Linked DNA regions of Homo sapiens. The protein of the gene in region 1 interacts with the protein of each later gene in a pairwise test. Each region holds a gene or a part of one and is shown on either strand. Other genes may lie near its edges.

The links. Proteins that work in one complex are often made in the same cells at the same time.
Region 2: the proteins of ZBTB14 (region 1) and CDKL3 interact in binary tests that used the Homo sapiens proteins (3 or more experiments, as listed by UniProt).
Region 3: the proteins of ZBTB14 (region 1) and FAM161A interact in binary tests that used the Homo sapiens proteins (3 or more experiments, as listed by UniProt).

The regions. Positions count from the first base shown.
Region 1 is NC_000018.10:5,292,709-5,299,924, forward strand, and holds the start of ZBTB14 (zinc finger and BTB domain-containing protein 14), read right to left. Parts: upstream 3,019-7,216; 5' UTR 2,944-3,018; intron 2,714-2,943; exon of another isoform or gene 1,473-2,713; intron 1,294-1,472; 5' UTR 1,264-1,293; intron 620-1,263; 5' UTR 539-619; coding exon 536-538; intron 1-535. UniProt on the Homo sapiens protein: Transcriptional activator of the dopamine transporter (DAT), binding it's promoter at the consensus sequence 5'-CCTGCACAGTTCACGGA-3'. Binds to 5'-d(GCC)(n)-3' trinucleotide repeats in promoter regions and acts as a repressor of the FMR1 gene.
Region 2 is NC_000005.10:134,301,166-134,308,187, forward strand, and holds part of CDKL3 (cyclin-dependent kinase-like 3), read right to left. Parts: coding exon 6,973-7,022; coding exon of another isoform or gene 6,969-6,972; exon of another isoform or gene 6,836-6,968; intron 5,538-6,835; coding exon 5,444-5,537; intron 3,403-5,443; coding exon 3,240-3,402; intron 1,523-3,239; coding exon 1,425-1,522; intron 1,046-1,424; coding exon of another isoform or gene 975-1,045; intron 1-974.
Region 3 is NC_000002.12:61,851,055-61,858,857, forward strand, and holds the start of FAM161A (protein FAM161A), read right to left. Parts: upstream 3,007-7,803; 5' UTR 2,988-3,006; coding exon 2,805-2,987; intron 1-2,804. UniProt on the Homo sapiens protein: Involved in ciliogenesis.

The DNA.
Region 1 (7,216 bases):
CTACTCTATGGAGGATTCAGCAAAATAATTATGTTATACCTCCTTGACAGAAGGAACAAATTACTATTGCAGAACTAGAGAGGAACATTACTGCCAAAATATCCCATTGAGTGTTGTGTTCTAGATTTTCCACAGCACTTTTGGGCCACTTCTAAATGAAGGTCAAGGTTTAATCTGACCTTAAGAGAATGAGATGACATTTGGGAAGTGGCTTTGTTCTCTCTAGATGCCAATCTACCTGCATCCAGATAAAAGTGCCATCAACACCAGATGTAAGTACTTGATAAGTGCTGAGAGTATTTTATAAGCAAAAATTTGGAACTGGCATGAAAGATCTCTGTCATCATGTTAAAAAACTGGTCATCTTAAAGCATTCTCTATGTTTCCTTTTTAAAAACATTGTTTTACTTTTATTCGGCTAATATTTTCCCCCAGACAAATAGAAGTGTTCATGCACAATCAGAATTGGTATATATATTTTAAAGCAAATGCCAAGTCATTTTCATCAAGATTTAATATCCAAAGTTATAGTTACCATGAACAACTCAGGCTATTATCTTAATGCCTTGAACGCCAAAATCTTCAGATCAGAGTAACTCTGATCAGGAGCACGCCAGACCTACAGAGGAAAGGATAAACAAGAATGAGGTAGGATCTTCCTGTATCCCAAATCCTAAACCAAGAATTGATTTTTTAAAAATAAACTTTCTTGTTCCCTCTTTTGTGCATTTTCAGGTTGGGGAGAGTGGCAGGTAGGTAGCTGGTACATCAAGTGCAGTTCTGAACAGATATGGACTAGAACAGATAAGGGCTGTAGCACTCGGGCATAAAGGGGCTGTGCCCTAGGAACTGGAAGGAGGGGTTGGAGAACCATTAAGGGATTTCTCCTCACACACTAAGCTCATGTCCATATTTGTACAGAGATTGATGGCTACACAGATATAGAAAAAAACAAGTGCACCGTGCCCCCTACACCTATCCCATTTCCCGCTGGGTATGTTAGCCCTCTACATTTTTCTCTCGGCTCATACAAACCTATAGAAGTATATACCTTACAAATAAAGCTATAGAAGTACATAAACCCAACAGGTAACATGGGAGGAGAGGGAACAATGATTGCTTTTTCTTTCTGCACCTGTGTGATGTATTAATAGCATACACGTTTGTTTTTAAGATTGTATTTGATAAATCCAGGTGTTTTTACCTCTATCCCTACAATAAGGGTGAAAGAATTTCAGCTTTTTTGTGAGTTTTAACTCTTACCGGAAGAACTCCATCCTGCAGACCCATATCCTGAAAAACAAAAAGTTTCCTCTACTGAACAGTGACCACACAGATAAGTTGTTTGGTGTGGTAGGAGCAAAGGACTGGGCTGTAACAGTCTTACACAAAAACCATGGAACAAGACTCCAACCTGGAGACCAACACCTTGAAACCCATAATAAGCTCCTTCTAAAGAAAAGTGAACACACCGAGCTACCCAGCGTAGAAGCGGGATGTCTCATCTGAAGTTTGAGGTTAGGCAACATTTCCAAAAGATGATTCTGACTTGATCATTCTACGTGTTTCTGCCTCTCTATTCCCTAGAAGCACCCAGGCCTGTAATCATCCAGAGGCTAGGCAGCCCAGCAAAAACCTTACACTGTGACACTTACTACTGTTGTCACTAACTCGTCCTAGGGCTTGTGGGATAAAAGTGCATGGGACCAGAGAGAGGAGTGGCCTTAGACTAGCTATGACAACATATCAATGTGTTGTTGTTGTTTTGGCTAGTGTGTACTTGGCCACTCGCCCCTCTCCCCTCTCTCTCTCAAGATGTATGAGACCTGGAAGAGAGACCATGTGTGTCCAAAGCCGCCTCCTCCCCGCCCCGCCCCCCTTGCCATTGAGATGTCCAATTGCTCAGTTCAGGTGAGTCAAAACTGGAAGACAGCTGTTGCCAGCATCTGTGTAGGCAGGTGTAGGAAAAGACGTAGCCCCAACACCACCTTCATAATAAGGCTGCCCCTTCCTAATTGCTCTCCAAACTGCGGGCGCGCTAAGCCGCGTTACAGTGCAGGGAGCCGGGCTTCCCGCAAAGCCAAAAACTTACATAAGCAGCTGCAGCCGCCTCCCCTGCCCCGGGCAGCCCGACAATGGCGGCTGCACGACTTCCTTGTTGCAAGCTTGCAACTTCGGAGTCGGGAGGAAGCAGGGAGCCAAGCGCAGACCCAAGAAGCCCTCAAGGCGTATCGAGTCCTCCCTCTCAATTTCTTTGGGCCTGGGAGGTGGGGAGTGGAGGAGGCCGTTTGCACTCCTTCCCAGACAAAAGCTCCCAGCCTGGGAGCCAGGTGGTGAAAGGGCCACTTTCCCTTTCATAATCAGACGTCGAGCGCAGGCTTGGGACCGCGGCTCGGAGCGCGCAGGGAGGGACTGCGGCCCGCGGCGGCCCCGGCGGCGCGACGAGCGGGAGCGGGCGTGCGGCCGGCTCCGCAGCCCCGCGCCGCGCCGCGCCCCGCTCCGCCCGCGAGCCCGGAGCTCGCGCCCCGCGCACTCCCCGGCCAGCTCGCGCCGGGCCCTCCCCCGCCCTCCCGCGGCCGGGGGCGGGGGCGGCGCGCGGCCGGCTAACCCAAGCTCCGCGGGCGCACCCGGGAGTGCGTGCGCTGGGTCCCGGCCCCCTCCTCCGCCGGCGGCTGTAGGCGGCGCGGCGGGGCCCGCGGCTCGGAGGGGCGGCGCCCGGCGGGCCGCGCTCCGCGCTGGGTTCGGGCCGTCCCCACCCCCACCGCGGTGCACTGCGGCGGTGCGAGCGGGGGCGGCCATGAACTCGGCCGCCGAGGCTCTGCGAGCGCGCGCGCGGGGCCGCCGCCGCCTGGCCGCTCCCCGAGCCCGCTCGCCGGCCCGCGCGGCCCCCGGGGCGCCCCGGCCCCACGCCCAACCCTGGCCCACGCCCGTCCCCGCTCGCACCGCGCCGCGCCGCTGGCGGCCGCCGCACATCCTGGAGCTGGCTGGTGCCCCAGAGCTCGGCGAGAACGCGCGTCTTCCGGGCCGCCCCGCCAGCCGCCGGCCGCCCCCGCGCCCGCCTTGCGGACGGCCCCAGCCCCTTCCGCACCCTGGCCCGCGCTTACCTGCAGCCTGGCACAGGCACAGACACTGCCGTGGGTTCCCCGCGCTCGCTAGCAAACGCAGGCCGGGACCGGAGGGGCTCGGGGCGCGGGGGCACGGTGGGTGGCAGTGTGTTTTGGATTTTTTTTTGGAGTTTGGGGAGGGGGCGGGGTGGGGGAAATCGTGCACGTCCCTGATGGTAGCAGCCCTCCTCCTGCACGAGCACAGAATGTCTAGCCGGCCGTGAACACCCCCACCGCCCCCCCCTTCCCGTGCATGCGCGGTGCGGGCTGGGGGGAAGGCGCGCCGCCGGCTTGCGCAGGCACGGAACCCGACCGGGTCTCTAAGTGGGCGAGCAAAGAAAGGGTTAATCCGGGCCCTTGCCGACGCTTTCGTTGGAGACTACGGGGCCGCCCCCGGAGGGCCCTGGCCTGCGCACGCGCGCGCACGCGCGCGGCTTGGGGCGCGCGGAGCCCGCGCGCGGGAGAAGGAGTGGGCGGGGCAAGGGCGGGGCTTCGGGAGCCAGGGAACTTAAGCACGAGCGCTGCTCGCGGACACCCGCCCCGCCTCAAGCTCCCTCCCGCCCTGGTTCGTGGGCTTCCGCCCGCGCCCGGCGCCGGCGCAGCGCCGGGGACGCGGGAGCCAGCGCTCCCGTGCGTGTGCATGTGCGTGGGCCAGAGCCTCCCCCGGGCGCGCGCAGGCCGGGCGCTGAGGCTGCGGGGCTCTGCCGCGTCTCGGAGCGGGCGCCCCGGCCACTTTCGCCCTCCGCGCACACCGGCCGACACCGGGAGGCGCGCCCACGGGTCTGCGGTCTTGCCTCTTGCCGCCGGCACATTGAGTTTGTGGGGGAGTGGACGGTGCACAATAAACACTTGCAGAACAAATGGAAAAAGCGACGTCTTCGATTTGTAGTGTAAAGCGCAACCCCAGTTGCCCAGCAGAAAGGGATCACCCATAGGGCTTCGGAGCTAGTAGGTCCGCGCCCGGACACTCCAAGGAAAAGTCCAGGGGCTGGAGGCGGCGACCCGTCTGTGGCAGTCCAGACCCTGGACTCGATTCGGAGAGCTCTGATAACTTGGCTCTGTCCTTAACATCCCTGCTCAGCGCCAGTAATGGCTCCGTTGCTGTTGAACCACGTCGCCTTCCCTCTGACGCGGCGGCTGTGCCTGTGTCTGGCGTCGGGAGCTGGGAAGTCCCTCCCGCTCCCGCGTTTTCTGCTCACCGAGATGCAGGAGGCCGGACAGCAATGCCGCGCCGCCTTAGAGTCGCTCATGTTGCTTTACCTCACACGCGAAGTTTCCCCGAAACGCGTAATTTAATATCTAAAGATTAGAGCAGAAGCTTCCTCTTGGGCTTATTGAAGATGACATAAGATAGTGCTTGCAACAGGCACCTAAGTAAACATTTGGGAAATAATATGATGATTGGATGTGTTAATTTTCTAAAGGAAGTTCTATATGGCCTCAGTTGATTTTGTAATGTTAATTGACTTTGGTTTAACGTTCCCCAAGGCGACTTTATACGCATCTTTTTTGATGTTCACAAAAGCACCCAAGTTACGGCTTATATGGAGGAAATAGGATGGAAGAGACCGGTTGTAGAGTCAGACATATCCAGTTCACATATTGGGTAAATTGTTTAACTTCTCTAAACCTCAGCTGAAGGAGAGCTATGGAAAGCACCTAATAAGGCACTTGTAAGGATTAAGTGAAATAATGCCCAGCTAAGGTATTAGCTCCATGATGGAAAATCACCTGCACCCACAGATAGTGGGTTCCAGTGGCCTGGACAGAACCAGAACCAAGTCTTCTGCCACGAAAGTTCACACTCATCAGACATGATACCGTGTACTCGCTTTATTCTTGTTTGCGTAGCTCTTGAAGTTGCATTTCAATCCTGTGGATGCTGTGTGTTTATAGGGGGATAATAATAGTACTCTGTCATAGGGTTGCGTCACCAAGCAGTAAAGCAGCCACTGCAGTTAGCACAATGTGTGGACACGGCCAGTACTCAAGTCATGGCGCATCTGCTGCTGGCGCTCCCCCTTCTCCCATACCACATATGGGGTTTCCCACTCATTCTGCGTGTATTTTTGGTCTGCCTACTGTGTAAAGACAATCTTTTCGCATATGGCTAGGAAAAGACTTCCCACGTTTCCACTAACCCGATAACATAATTCACAAGAGTTCTAAAGCACTAGAATGCATTTCTCAAGTGACGGTTCCTGACATCCTGGTTTTGTATCAATGAATCCTCTTGTCTCATTTGTTTTATGTTCATGTCACCTGGGCTCTGCCTGGCTGTCCCTTGCTGGTTCACAGGGGTTGTGGGGATGAGTCTAAATTAAAGGGACAACTCTGTGGGAAGGTGGAGGGATGGGAAACCACAAAGGAAAGGCCTGACCCAAGCCTGGCTTCTCGCCTGTGTCGCCACCCAAAAGTGCACTTCCCAGCACCCAAGAGGCTTTCAATAAACATCAGCGGACAGTAAGTGACAACCTTGAATTTGATACTAAGGGGCTTTGTAAAAGTACACTGTGGCGTCAACGCGGGGGCAGGGCTTTCCTGAAATGCACTGACCCAAGGTCCTTGACAAAGTTTTCCTCCTTTTCCGACAACTCTGATGGGTGACATTTGGAGCACGTTGTTCCTCACTTGGGACACCCATGGCCTCCTGAGTGGAACCTGTTTCTAAGAATTGTGAGGCCCAGGCCATGGGGCCCGCAGTGTGCAGTCCCGGGTGCCAGGGTCTGATGTGGTTACAGAGCAGCCCAGTAAGGGACCGTTTGGAAACATTATGTCTCACAGGCGGGGGAGGTTGATTTCTCCCTCATGTTGACCTTGGGCCCTCTGGCTGGTTTTGAAACAGCAGGATACCAGCAGATGAGAGTGGGCCGGGTCTGAGTAGAGGTTTTGAGAGCAGCCTTTGTTCTGCGCCTCCTCCTCTGCTGTGACGTCCAGCACAACACGACCATGGTTAGGCCACAACCCCCTCTTCAGCTTGGGCCCTTGAATGACAAACAGACCTGAGAATGAAGCCAACCCAAAACCTGAGCACAGCCAAGCCTAGAGAGAAGACAACTCACCCACAGACCTATGACTGAGAAGTAAATGTTTGTTTTATAAGCCACTGGGAGGTTGGGTTTTATGCTTTGTTACTGAACAAAATCTAATACATCTGTGCAAGGAAAAGTGTCACACCCAATGCCATAACCACCTTCCCCCTGTGACTCTGAGAACACTTGATACAGCAAATGAACAAAAACCCGATCCAATCCGTGTCATCATGGAGATACTGATGTGCACATTCAACAAATAATCACATCGTTACACAATTGCACATTGCAATAAGTGTTTTTATAGAAAGTTAAAAAACACAGAATGTGATGAAAAAGAGGAACAGGAGGAATTAATTTTGCCTGGGAAATCAGTGAAAGCTTCTTCAAAGGCATACATTTAAGACCTGAAAGATGAGGGAGAGATTCGCAAAGAGGGGGAAGAAATAGCATTTCAAGACAGAGACAGGAACAAAGTGAATGCAAGGGTGGAAGGAGCTTGAAGTACCTCAGTCTCTGCAAAAGTGGACATGAGATGTGTTTGTGAGAACAACAGTGTCCAGCACCTGTAGGGCCTTGTGGTTTATAGGAAGGGGTCTTCACAATGACAGCCCCGAAAGCTTGGGCCATTTAGGTGGAGGGGTTGAATCAAAGGAAGGTCCTGAACATCTGCCAGGGCAAGGAACATCAGGACAAGCTTGTCTTGTGCTTGTGGAGGAATTGCTGCATGAGGATGGAGTTGGCCATGTGGAACGATCATTCTCCTATGGATCAGAACTGGTGGGGCATCTGGTCGTCTCTGGGCACCAGACACTTGTTTCTTCTTCCTCTGGAACCTGGTCATTTAGATTTCCTCATTGCCTTTTGGGTTAACATCGAGGAAACTGGGTGAAGAGTTTCTGGAAACACTCTGTGTTATCTTGACAACTCTTCCATAAATCCAATATTATTGTAAAACGAAAATTATTCCTGTTCATGTAATTATTTTTTCCTAGATACTTTCAAGATTTTTTTCTTTGTCTTTAGTTTTCAGCATTTTGATTATGGTGTTTTCTGAGTAGGGATTTCATTGCTTATACT
Region 2 (7,022 bases), on another chromosome or scaffold:
TTTTGTATTTTTAGTAGAGAAGGGGTTTCACCACATTGGCCAGGCTGGTCTTGAACTCCTGACTTCAGGTGATCCACCCTCTTCAGCCTCCCAAAGTGCTGGGATTACAGGTGTGAGCCACTGTGCCCGGCCTAATGGCATTCTTGTTCTACAACATTTCTTCTCTGCAAAGTGGACTGTGGAGTTCTTAACAAGCTCTAGGCCAAGACTAAAGAGATAGCCCTAAATGTCACAGTGAGAATACATCTAATAGTGTCTGATAACCCTCTATCCAAATATTATAGAGATCAAGTAGCCTTGTTAAAATGCCTTCTTACAGAGTTTCAGATTTTTTAAAATATTTTTAATTTCTTCAAATTTTCTTAATAAGTATTTACTAATTTTATCATGAGTAAAACTGTAATAAATTTTATTTTTTAAAAAAACAGAAGTTGGGCCAGATGCGGCGGCTCACACCTATAATCCCAGCACTTTGGGAGGCCCAGGCGGGTGGATCACGAGGTCAGGAGATCGAGACCATCCTGGCTAACACAGTGAAACCCCGTCTCTACTAAAAATATTTTTTAAAAAAAATAGCTGGGTGTGGTGGCGTGTGCCTGTAGTCCCAGCTACTTGGGAGGCTGAGGCAGGAGAATTGCTTGAACCCGGGAGGCAGAGGTTGCAGTGAGCCGAGATCGCGCCACTGCACTCCAGCCTGGGCAACAGAGAGACACTCCGTCTCAAAAACAAACAAACAAACAAACAAACAAACACAAAAACAGAAGTTGATAAATCACATACAGAGATGACCTCACAAGTGTAGAATAGGAGGCCATCGATATGATTTAATTCAGTGGGTGCTCAGCACAATCTCTCTCTCTTAAAAGACTGTCTTTATAGAGCATTCATTTGGATATTACAGGCTTCAAGATTTTCAAATAAAATTTGAGAATCTCTCTGGTGGGTAGGGACTGGGAATATTTCAACAAGATTACCTGATAGTTAGCTGAGAGCAAATATTTGTGAAAATAGGACAGCAGGCAGACAGCAGAGATAAGGGAATAAACTGGAGAGAAAACGAAGGAAGGAAGAGGCTTAAAGGCAAAGACACACATGCTTGTGGCCATATAACCATATATTTATACCATTATTCATTTTCACTAGTCTGACTTACCTGCCTGATATCTGACACTACACACAATACAGATAATATTTTCCCTGGGTGCCATGCATTCTAATCATTCAACATTACCCACCAAAAAATAACTTTTAGAAACTTTTATTAATGGGTTATTCTAGGAAAATATAGATCTGTTTCTTTAGTTCAAAGATTATAAAATTTTGAATTTTTATATAGCTTTCCAATAGTAATAACTAAATTTATACACTGAGTCAAGTCCTCTAAACAACATGCCTTAGTAAAAGCTATATACAAAAAGAGTTACCTCTTGTTTTTCTTGATTTTGATCCACGTTAAGTAAAGTTGGTATCTTAGATGACTCTGTTTTCTTTGACTCCCTCTTCAGCATTTTTATCTGTTTAACTTTTGCAAAAATATACAAAACAATGAAAATTTGTTATTCCTACTTTGAAATTTTACTTTCCTTTCCAAGAATTTCAAATAGAAATCCACTAAGTCAGTTTCTCAGTTTATTACAAAGGAACAAAATAAATTATGAGTTGTAATGGTAAAATATGGTAAATTATTTGTTTTATAACTTTACAAATAGTCTACTAAGTATTAAAATAAGACATTTATTTTATTTTATTTTATTTTATTATTCTCAGTGTAACTGTTAAGTGGATCAGATAATTCCTCTTGAACTGTACAAGGATGATATTCTTGCTATTATATTAATTTTTCACAAGGTGTCACTGTTCTTCAAAGAAACATAACATTTATTCAAGACAAAAGTGCGTTTCATTCTGATATAAATCTTAAGTTCATAAATTTTTTTTTTTTTTGAGATGGAGTCTCACTCTGTCACCCAGGCTGGAGTGCAGTGGCGCGATCTCGGCTCACTGCAACCTCCGCCTCCCGGTTTCAAGTGATTTTCCTGCCTCAGCCTCCCAAGTAGCCGGGATTACAGGCATGAGCCACCATGCCTGGCTAATAGAGATGGGGTTTTGCCATATTGGCCAGGGTGGTCTCAAATTCCTGACCTCAGGTGATCCGCCCACCTTGGCTTCCCAAAGTGCTGGGATTACAGGTGTGAGCCACTGTGCCCAGCCTATAAATCTTATATATTTAATCCTTGGATGCTCAAAATACATATAAAATTTCTGCTACTATATGGGTAAATGATCATGAAGAAACATAGAAAGGCAATTTACCCCAGGTCATATACTAAACAAATTTCTCAAATACTATTCTAACATTTCAACAACATTGAGCTAATAAAAAATTTATCCTTTGCAGCCAGCTGCAATGGCTCACGCCTGTAATCCCAGCACTTTGGGAGGTTGAGACAGGTGGATCACCTGAGGTCAGGAGTTCGAAATCAGCCTGTCCAAAATGGTGGAACCCCCCCCCCGTCTCTACTAAAAATACAAAAATTAGCCAGGCGTGTTGGTGGGCACCTGTAGTCCCAGCTACTCAGGAGGCTAGGCACGAGAATCACTTGAACCTGGGAGGTGGTGGTTGCACTGAGCTGAGATTGCAACACTGCACTCCAGCCTGGGCAGCAGAGTGAGACTCTGTCTTAAATAAATAAATAAATAAATAAATTTTAATAATTTACCTTTTAAAGCTGTCTTAACCTCTCTTTATTTTTCTTTTTAATTAAAAAAAAATTTTTTTTTTTTAGAGACAGGGTCTCATTATGTCATCCTGGAGTGCAGTACAGTGGCGTGATCATGGCTCACTGCAGTCTCAACTTCCTGGGTCAAGCAATCCTCCTACCTCAGCCTCTGGAGTAGCTGGGACTACAGGCACACACCACCACACCAAGCTATTTTATTTTTTGTAGAGACAGGGTTTTGCTATGTTGCCCAGGCTTGTCTCAAACTCCTGGGCCCAAGCAATCCTCCTGCATTGGCCTCCCAAAATGCTGGGATTACACGCCTAAGCCTCTTTAAAATTATCTCCTTAAAATCATACCCCTTATTTGACAATGGGGAGAAAATCTCATCAGCTGAAATGTTTTCCTCACCAATTTACTATTTTCTACCTAAATCACACTATAAAATGTAAGTTATATTATGAAAAAATCTTATAAATGATATCATCATAATTGTAAAGCTATGCAACAAATGTGTACCTTCCATTCCTTTTGTATCTTTTGACTGTATTGTGACAGGCAATTCTGGAAAATGGAATTCTTTCCTGTCAGATCTGGAAAAATTCAGCTTCCTTTTGTTCTCATTTGCCATTTGGTCACTGTGACCTGTTCGCTCATTAAATATACCCTTCTCCATTTGGCTCTAAACAAACAAACAAGAGTTAGTTGAAGAAATGTGTCTAACTATTTGTAGAATGACAATCCTAGAATTGCTAGCCATTTGGATGGTATAAGATAGACATAACAATTAATTTAATAATTAAGAAGATTTAGAATAGAACACTATTGAACATATCAACAGATCAAACTCCAATAAAAGTTTCATAAAGCAAACATTTCTAGCATATTTAATATTCTGAGCATAATAGTCTTGGTCATGAGAACCACAATAATAATAATAATAATAATATTATTATTATTATTATTATTTTGAGTGCATTGGCATGATCATGACTCATTGCAGCGTCAACCCCCTGGGCTCAAGTGATCTTCCCACCTCAGTCTCTTAAGTAACTGGGACTACAGGCACATACCACCATGCCTGGTTAATTTTTAAATTTTTCGTAGAGATGGGGTCTTGTTAGGTTGACTAGGCTGATCTCAAACTCCTGGGCTCAAGTGACCCTTCTGCCTTGGGCTCCCAAAATGCTGGGATTACAAACATGAGCCACTGCATCTGGCCTTATTATTATTATTATTATTATTATTAAGACAGAGTCTTGCTTTGTTGTCCAGGCTGAAATACAGTGGCGCCATTACGGCTGCAGCCTCAACCTCTTGGGCTCAAGCCATAGTCCCATCTTAGCCCCCGAGTCTGAAACCACAGCCACATGCCACCACACACGACTAATTTATTTTATTTCATTTTTTGTACAGACAGGGTCCGTTATGTCGCCCAGGCTGATCTCAAATTCCTGGGATCAAGCAATCCTCCCAGCTCAGTCTCCCAAAATGCTAGGATTACAGGTGAGAGCCACTGTGCCTGGCCAGAACCACAAACTTAACTTTTCATTTTTAATACTATTCACTGCACTCTGACTTTGAACAAATTGCTTCAGTTCATTTTCTTAATAACTTCTTTATCTACCTAGAAAATGATATGCTTTGTAAACACTGGGAAAACCCAAAGGAAAAAATGTATTGCACATCCAGCATCTGGGAAACCTTCTGTGTTACCAGATTTTTGTTCATTTGAAAACAGATGATAAAATCTTGTCTAGATCAATGAACACTCTTCCACAATGTAATGTTTAGTATTCCACTGTATGAATGTACCCTAATGTACTTAGTCATCTGCTTTTGGACAGGTTTGTATTGTTTTCAGTTTTTTGTTATTATAATTAACATTGTGCTTCAATTTTGAATAAATCAATTTCCTATGTAAAAAGTTGTGAGGTCCCATTAGCGATGAATAATGCAAAATAAGCCAAAAACAAAACAAAACAAAAGTTGGGAGGGGGATGAACTACATCGATTATTTTGATTATTTTTTCTAGTGAAAATAAGTTGTGTTTATTTGGCAATTGTTTTTAATCCATAAAGATATTAAAAACATTTTTTGGGAGTGAAAAAAACAAAACTTCTTGTGACTTTCAAAGGTGGAAATCTTAACTTACTCTGCCTAAGTCACATGTTAAATACATAAATTAAGATATATGAACTTAATTAATTGTGATAAATTAAGATATATGAACTTAATTAATTGTGAAAGCACTTAGAAAATAATGGCCTATTTTCAACTCAGGAAGAAAAAAAGAAACTTAAAGCACATTTTTAGAAGTGTTAGAGGCTGGGTGCGTTGGCTCACACCTGTAATCCTAGCACTTTGGGAAGCTGAGGCGGAAGGATCCCTTGAGCTCAGGAGTTTGAGACCAGCCTGGGCAACATAGTGAGACTTTGTCGCTACAAAAAAATGAACAAAATTAGCTGGGCATGGTGGCATGTGCCTGAAGTCTCAGCTACTTGGGAGGCTGAGGTGGGAGCATTGCTTGGGCCCAGGAGGTCGAGGCTGCAGTGAGCTGAGATCGTACCACTGCACTCCAGTCTGGGCAACAGAGAGAGATCCTCTCTCAAAAAAACAAAACAAACAAACAAAAAAGTATTAGAGCCCTAAAGATAGAGAAAAGGAAAAAAGAAGTAATGTTAAAAGAGGCCATATTTTAATGTGTAGCTTCTTGCCTTACTTGAATAGGACCTGGATCCTCTTGCCTGCTATTAGGCATAACTTGTCCAATAGATTGTGAAGAAGTGCGTCTCTTTTTTGCTCTTTCAGTTAACCTATTATTTAAAAATGAATGAGAAGTTACTAAAACTCCCCAGAAATGCTTTTTTTTTTTTTTTTTTTTTTTTGGCAGATTCTCACTCTGTCACCCAGGCTGGAGTGCAGTGTCATGATCTTGGCTCACTGCAACCTCTGTCTCCTGGGTTCAAGTGATTCTCTTGCCTCAGCCTCCCAAGTAGCTGGGATTACTGGTGTGCTCCAACATGCCCAACTAATTTTTGTATTTTTTGTAGAGACAGGGTTTTGCCATGTTGGCCAGGCTGGTCTCGAACTCCTGAGCTAAAGTGATACACTCGCCTTGGCCTCCCAAATTGCTGGGATTACAGGCACGAGCCACCATGCCCGGCCGAAATGCCTTTGTTTTAGCTTCAAGAATGAATAAATTATGGCTTGGAAGTCTACTGTTTGAACACTGAGTACCAAAATGCAATAGTGAGTCCTTACCTACCAATTGCCCTTAGGAGAGAGGTGGTAACAGGGCAGAGAACAATTAGTGCATGTTTACATCAGTGGTGACAGGCATGTTGTGGGGTTACTCCTGCTGGCCTACTTGCTCCCTTCTACCTGTTCTGAATTTGGTTCTCTTAACTATCAGCTTTCTCAATTTATGAACTTACTGTCCAAGACTGACTGGCTTACAACCATTGTTACTGATACCATGGTTTTGGGATCACCTCAAGAACAACTAGGCTCTTGCAGTCTGTAACCTGCTGTACCTTTGGACTGACATGGACATGTCCACTTGCTCACCTCTGCAGACCACTGGGCTTCACAACCTGTGGCCCAAACCAGTCTGCTAGAATCCTCTTGGGCTAATGAACCCAGTCTCCTCCCCTAGAATGACAGTAGCCTCCCTAAATTTTGAAGTGGCCTTACTGCCTTGTTGGACAAACTCTCACCATCCATCACACTGCCCTTGATTAACCAGACTCATGGACCAGTCTCTCAATCTGTATCAGAGGTTAAATCTAAAACTGGCCTAATATGCTATTTTTCTCCCAAAATATTTCACCTTGAAAGGCTATTTGACTTACGAAAGATTATTTTTTTACTATCCTTTCTCCACTTAGAGAATTTGCTATGATACAGAAATAAATATTTTGTTATACCAAGGCACATTGATACCAGAACTTAGGACATACCAACTTTTTTTCTCTTCAAAAATAAAAACATTTTTCAAAGGGTCTTTTTTTTTAATAAGGTTTTTCAAGAAGACATTAGTGAAAATTTAAACATCTATATGGCCAAGAAAAGTTAATTTCTTCTACAGCATCCATAAGAAACACTCAGTAAATGGCCCATTATACAGCTTTAATTTCAATATATTTTCTTCAAGTTCAGTTTACATACAGACACTATGAACACGATTCTTTGAAATACCATTATACAGGAATGTTGTATTATTTAGGTTTCTTCTCTGTTACAGCTCACCTCACACTGGGGTGAAAGAGATTTGAACTGAGATTTGCAGCCATCAAATT
Region 3 (7,803 bases), on another chromosome or scaffold:
GTAGAGATGGGGTTTCTCTATGTTGGTCACGCTGGTCTTGAACTCCCAACCTCAGGTGATCCACCCACCTCAGCCTCCCAAAGTGATGGGATTACAGATGTGAGCCACCGCGCCCGGCCCTGTTCATTTTTAATTGTCTGATTTCCCTCACCAGACTGAAAATTCTGTGAGGATGTGAGCTATATATACACTGAATAGTTAATGACTAGCACTTAATAAATGTTCAATATTTGTTGAAAAGATAAGGTTGCCCCATTAGGAGTGAGATTTTATTTTTTCTTTTTATTTATTTATTTTTTTGAGACATAGTCTCACTCTGTTGCCCAGGCTGGAGTGCAGTTTTTGCATCTCAGCTCACTGCAACCTCCGCCTCCCGGGTTCAGGCAATTCTGCCTCAGCGCCCCCTAGTAGCTGGGATTACAGGCGCGTGCCACCACGTCCGGCTACTTTTTGTATTTTTAGTAGAGACCGGGTTTTGCCATGTTGGCCAGGCTGGCCTCAAACTCCTGACCTCAAGTGATCTACCTGCCTCAGCCTCCCAAAGTGCTGGGAGGAGTGAGATTTTAATTGCGAATTACAGAATACTGCGTTACCTGTGTCATCATCAGTCATATAACAGGATATGTGGACCAACATCTCTGACTAAGGCTAGATTCAAGGAACAGGCATCAGTGCCCAATATGGGCACTGCAAGGGGGGTGCGTGTGTATGCCAGAGCTGGGAGGGTGTATAGGGATGGTGCAGGGGTTGGGGGGTTGGGGGGCAGTGTGGGGTGGGATGAGTGGTCTGGCTTTGGCAAAACCAAAGAGCTGAAAGAGGCCTATTGTGATGGGTGGTTCTCAAATCAATCTTGTGGGTTAGGTATAATATTTGACTTTACTACATTTTATAGATAATAAGGTTAAGGCAAATTAACCTTTAAAAATCAAGATGGAGACCCAAGCCAACCAGTGAAGAAAGCAGAGCCTATTTCCTGCACTCTTCCTGCCTTCTTAATGCCTCTTCCCCCAGCCTGTGCCCCCTGGCTATCAGGCCCACTGTGGCAGCTTACCCAGCTTTACTTTTGGATCCCTCATGTGTGGTGGTCTCAGAACAGTACCAAACTCTTAAGACTTGGCTTCCTTTTTTTTTTTGTAGGATCCTGTCCTTTCCAAACTAGATTATTGTATAAACTGATCCCTCCTAAGGTAATAACAGTTTCTAACACAAATTTGCAGTTTAACAGGGCACTGTGGAAGCATATCTGCAACTTAGAAGTGACTGACTCCTTTACCACAGCAAGCCAAAGTTGAGTTTAATCTTTGGGAAGGCACACAAATGACACTCCCACTGGCAACTCATTTACATAGATTGCTCTTTAGAGGAGACACACATTCTTTCATTTGGTTCTCATAGAGCTGAGATGGGAAAAAAGAGACAATTATTATAGTTATTTTACAGATAAGGAAACTGAGGTTTAAGGAAATTATGTCCTAACACCACCTAGGAAGTGGCAGGGAATGGATCCTAATACAGAACTCTTCAATCCTTTTTCTCCATCACGTTGCCTTGTTGCCTACTGAAAATTGTGTTGAGGGGTAGCTTCATCATGAACAAAATCGGTCCTAGCACTCTGATCCTGGTTCATGTTCAGGGTCTCAGTCTGCCTTACTCTGGATAACTTCAAGTTGTTTGTCTGTTGGTGAAAGATTGGTCACAAAAGGTGTTGCTAAAGATGTTCTCATTAACAATTTTACTGTAGATTAAAGAGATCAGAATTCCAAAATATCCAGTGATTTCAGTTAGTCCTCAATCATAAGTTTGGTGTCTGAGAAGCTTTGGACACATGGTATTAGGAAATTTTTTCTATCTGCAGATTGCTAGTTTAAATTCAAGATTCCCATCTTTTTTTTTTTTTTTTTTTTTTGAGACTGGGTCTGAGATCTCAGCTCACTGCAACCCTCACCTCCCAAGTTCAAGCGATTCTCCTGCCTCAGCCTTCCGAGTAACTAGGATTACAGGGGCGCACCACCACGCCCGGCTAAATTTTGTATTTTTAGTACAGACGGGGTTTCACCATGTTGGTCAGGCTGGTCTCGAACTCCTGACCTCGTAACCCGCCCACCTCGGCCTCCCAAAGTGCTGGGATTATAGGCACGAGCCACCGCGCCCGGCCAAGATTCCCATCTTTTAAGTGAATTGAGCAGATGGCAGACCCTGCCCTCTACCTGCTGGACTGGTGTCCACAACAGATTTAACAATGAAAACTGATCAGTGAAAAGGCCGTCTCGCTGTACCCTAAAGAGCTGTTTAGGAAACACTGAAACCTCAGTGATTTGCTTATCTGTATCCGTGTCTGATTTAGCCAGTGAACACGTGATGGTTTTAAACACACATCTTTAGAGCACTATGTTGAGATCCGCTTATAACCAAGATCTTAAGGTAATAACGAAACACACCTGACAGAACAGTTTTCCTCAAATTACTATATATAGCCAGATATATCTCTATATATCCATTCCCGAGATGCTGGAGAGTAGAGAGTAAAATTCTATACTTTGCACTTGCCAGAAGCAGAGTAACATAAATGTTGTCTAGGAAGCTTTTACAACAGACTGGTGAAAATTAAAACACTTTTCAACGCCTCGATTTAGAGTAATTTTCGTGAGCGTAGAGAAGGGGCTGGGCCAGGACCACCAAGTAGGGACTATGTGCACAGGGACCCGCGTTTACCAGCCTGCCCTCAGCTGGGCGGGGAACCGGACAGCCCTCAGCCTGCACCCAGCCCATGCGAGGTCCCAGCCCAAGTCCCGCCCCAGTATTACCGATGCCCCAGCGGGCTGAGCCACTTTCTCCTCCTCTTCGTCCTCCAAGATCGCCTCCGCTGCCGCCAGGGCCTTTAAGGGGTCTTCGCGTTCGTACTGGGCGACCCGCGCTCCAGTGATGGGATTTACCGGGGTCTGGAGACTGGAGGCCACCAGCTTCGCCACTCGGTGGGAGGTGGCCATCGCCCCGCCTCCGAGGCCTGAGCGCCTGCGCTGGCCCGGGACGGGAAAGCTGGTGCGGCCCCTGGCAACCCGGGGGCGCCTAGCTAGGGAGCCGGTTGCTATGGGCGCCGTAACTGGGGACGCTACAGGAGCCGCCAGGGACCAAAAGTCACGCAAAATCCACTCAGGCTGCCAGAGACCCGAGTCGGGTGCTTACTGGATCATGGCAGTCAGTACCGAGTCTGTTGGCTGGTTCCGAAGGTTGGCAGGCTGAACAGGGCACTTATTCCACTCCTTTGCGTCTAACCGCCTGAACGCAGACTTCTCACATTATACAATGAAACAACTGCTTTTGTGAAGAAAAGAACGCTTTTTTATTAACTGCAATAACATGTTAGAAGGAGACAGTTGATGGAGGAGACGGCGGCGGCGGAGGAAAGCAGGGCGTGTTACTGGGTGGCGGTCTCAGAAGAGTGACAAGGTTGGCGTCCCGCTACCTAACATGTCTCCCGCGGGGGCCAGAGTGGGAAGGAGGGCGGTACATTCTACTCTGATTGACTTGAGGGCTAGCAGGAATCCACCAATCAGAAGGAGGCTCCCAGTTGTCCCTCTCGCTTTTTTCTTGACATGACCAATAAAAGCCCAGAGTTGGGTGGCGCCTGACCCTCCCACTAATGAGTGATAGTGCAGGTATTGTAAACCTGGCGTTTGCTTTGGGTTCTTCAGCTTGAGAGTGACAGGATTGAACGGCACAAGTGCCCAAGAGTCACCACAGACACATCCATCTCCCTCATCCGTATCTTCTCTTCCCACTCGGGATTTGGACGCATCAAATGGCGCCTTCCCTCTGCACCACGTGGCAGTAAGAGAAGCCAAACCTCAAAATAGCGGACGTGGTGCAGTCTCAGACATCTGCTCCCTGAGCCCCTGCTTACTGAGGCCGAGGCTGCCGCCCCCTATCTACTCCCTATCTACCCCCTCTCTATCCTTTGCCCTCCTCCTGCTCCCCAGCCCTACGACCGGCCCCCTCCGGTCAGTATTTTCCTCGTTATGCGCTGCACATCGTCGAGAACCCGTCTCTAAGGTCTGAGCCCTTACCAAACCTTTGTTCTCCTGTCTGGGTGTGAGCACCTACAAAGTCTCCTACGTCCCCACTTCCTTCAGGCTGCTCTTGGTTTTAGCTGAACAGTTGCTTCCCATGCTGGAACAGATGCTGACTGGGTTCTAAGCAGAAGCCAGAGCCAGAACCATGAGATATGCACCGCCAGGTGTGGCCAAGTTTCCAGGGGAGCAATTTCCAGTCAGACACGGCAGCCAGTTTTGTGGCTACAAAACTGCCTCAGCCTCCGGAGTAGCTGGGATTACAGGCGCACTCCCGGGAGGCGGAGGTTGCAGTGAGCCGGGATGGCGCCACTGCACTCCAGCCTGGGCAATAAAGCAAGACTCCGTCTCACCACCACCACCACCAACAAAAGTATTGATAAGGAATTATAGCAGATGAATTATAAATAATGAAATATCCTATTCTCTTTACTGTAAATTCCTCATAGACAATTGCTTCTCTCAGAATGCTTTCGTTGGTTTATGCTGTACTCCTGTATTTGTGGCCAACTTATGGTTGCAATTGTTTAACAACCTAGTTCCAACATGAATGTTGGTTAATATTTTTGTTTTTATTTGTGATTAAGATGAGAGTGACATATCCAAGATCTATGTCAGAATTTCACTTGTCAATGTTATGAGCAACTTCTTTGCTGAAATAGATAATCATTTTCTAACACTGGAATAATTTTTCTTAATTTTTTCTGCAAGTCACAATGTAAAGGCTACAGATAACACAAACTTTTAAGTTTACTCTGCATTAATATTTTCCACATCCGTTTCTTAAGTTTAAATGTCCAATGTTTAGCTTTTGCTGATTTCCATGATGTCAATATTCCCATCATAGCCAATTTCAAGCCACCAATGTGACATCACTTAATAAGAATTTGAGAAAAGATGTCTAGTAGCACACCATTATATAGTATTTCCACCATACAGATACAGTAGATGCAAGGAACATAAAAGAAAGTGAAGAGTTTTAAGAAATTATCTTTGTTTTTGACATAATTTATTGTAATTAACAAAACAATTTTTTTTTTTTTAAGATGGAGTCTCCTTGTCACCCAGGCTGGAGTGCAGTGACGTGATCTCGGCTCACTGCAACTTCCGCCTCCCAGGTTCAAGCGATTCTCCTGCCTCAACCTCCCGAATAGCTGGGACTACAGGTGCCTGCCAACACGCCTAGCAAATGTTGTATTTTTAGTAGAGGGCAGGGTTTCACCATGTTGACCAGGCTGGTCTTAAAATCCTGACCTCAGGTGATCCGCCTGCTTTGGCCTCCCAAAGCACTGGGATTACAGATATGAGCCACCACGCCCAGCCAAGTTAGACATTATAAAAGAAAAATAACTAGAAAAGCCTTTTTAGTTGGGAAATTTAAAACTCTTCAAAAAACAATTTGTGCATTACAGAAAAAGTCATGGCAGAAATTATCTAGAGAGTCAAATAACAACAAAAATACAATGTGTCAAAATGTCTTAAATGTAAAATGGTGCAGCCACTTTTTAAAAGTTTAGGCCTTCTTTCTCCCACCGTCCCTCATGTTCTTCCTTTCCATCTTGGGCCTGGCAGAATGGCTCCTGCAAAGAAGGGTGGCAAGAAGATGAGCTGTTCTGCCATCAACAAGGTAGTGACCCAAGAACACACTTGGGTCACTAGCTCACATCCATGGAGTGGGCTTCAAGAAGCATGCTCTGTGGGCATTCAAAGAGATTCAGAAATTTGCCATGAAGATGGGCACTCCAGATGTGTGCATTGATACCAGGCTTAACAAGGCTATCAGGGCCAAAGGAATAAGGAATGTCCCACACCATGTACATGTGCGATTGTTCAGAAAACATAACAAGGATGAAAATTCACCAAACAAGCTCAATACTGTGGTTACCTGTATACCTGTTACCACTTTCAAAAATCTAGATAGTCAGTGTGGATGAGAACTAACTGCCAATTGTCATATATGTCAAATAAAGCTATAAACCCGCTAAAAATAATTGTGACGGCTCCTCTGAAAGTTGAATATACAATTACTATATGACTCACTCCTAGGTATATACCAAAGATAATTGAAAACATGTTCACACAAAAACTTGTGCAGTGTGGAAGAAAATGAAGTAACTAAGGTGAAGGCTTTCTAAAGTGGAGTCAGGAGATTGCTAGGGGATTGCATTCACACCTGCTAAAAAGTCAAACCACCGAATAGACCTGTAGAAACAACTGAAGTCAGTAAGTATCTGCCAGCCTTCATCATCTCTCAGCGTGAGTACCCTAATTAACCAACCAATCAGAATGGGTTTGAGATTTAAGAGTTCTACCCAGCCAATGAACTGCCTCTGAAAACTTCTTGTGGGAATCCCCTATTTAAAAAACCCTCTCCTGTGCTTGCCTTATGAGACACTATTCAGGGCTGCTCTGATTCACTGTACGTGAATTGCAATTCTTTGTTTCTCAAATAAATTAAATGCTATTTCCTTTGACCTCTGTGTCTCAATCTTTTTTCTTTTTTTTTTTTTTTTTTTTTTTTTGTCGCCCATGCTGGGATGCAGTGGCATGATCTCAGCCCACAGCAACGTCTGCCTCCCGGGCTTGAAAGATCCTCCCATCTCAGCCTCCAGAGTAGCTGGGACTGTAGGCGCGGGCCACTACACCCAGCTTATTATTATTATTATTATTTTGTAGGGTTTCACTTATGTTTTCACTTATGTTGCCCAGGCTGGTCTCGGGCTCAAGCAATCCGCCCTCCTCAGCCTCTCAAAGTGCTGGGATTACTGGCATGAGCCACCATGCCCAGCCTCGATCTTTGTTGTAGTTAACACAAATGTTCAAAGCAGCATTAATAGGAGCCAAAAGATGGAAACACTTCACATGTCCTTCAGCTGTTGAATGGATAAACAAAATGTGGTGTATGCATATAATGAAATGTTACTGAGCCACTCCCCCAACAAGTGGGCTTTCCCTCTGGTCCAGGAGGTCCAGTGCACTTTGGGTTAGGCAGCAATCTCAGAGCTCAGAAGCAAAATGACCTTCCAAGAAACAAGTGCAAGACAAGATCATTGGTTCAGCAACAAATAGATGCTACTGAAGGAGCTGAAATTTGCAGGATGCCTAGAAAAAAGGCAGACATAAGCAAAGTAAATTTGGAGGCTAATAAAGACTTAGATAACAATATGAATAATGGAAATCCTTGGGTTTGAAGAAGATGCCGTGATTGAGTTTATATTCAACCAGGTGGAAGTGGAGACCTGAACCAAAATGGAAGTTATTCCTTGCATCTCAAGTATAACATCATCATTGTATTAGGTCTCAGCAAAATGAACATCCCAATGTCACACTGCACTCCCTTATGTGTTTGGAAAATCCAGACTCCAAAATGATACAAAGCAATCTGACTGGGTTTTTGAATGAAATTACTAGAGAATTATGGGAGAACTGTAGTCCCTGCTGTTAAACGCACAAGAAGACATCACTGGAATCTCTTCTGCTTTCCTAGAACTGAAGAAAGAAGAAAAAAAAAAAAAACAGAGACAGACAGAACAAGAAAAAAAAAACCTGGTGTCTATGAAAAAGCAATATAAGGAGAAAAATAAGGATAAAGAAGAAAAAAGAAAGCAGAGAAAAAGGGGAGAGGTCTTAAAGCCCAAGAAAATGTAAATTCAGATCTCCTTCTCCTAAAAGAGGATCCTACCCTGTCAGGAGCAAGAGAATGCACAGTCATTTTCAATCTCCCCATCACAGAACC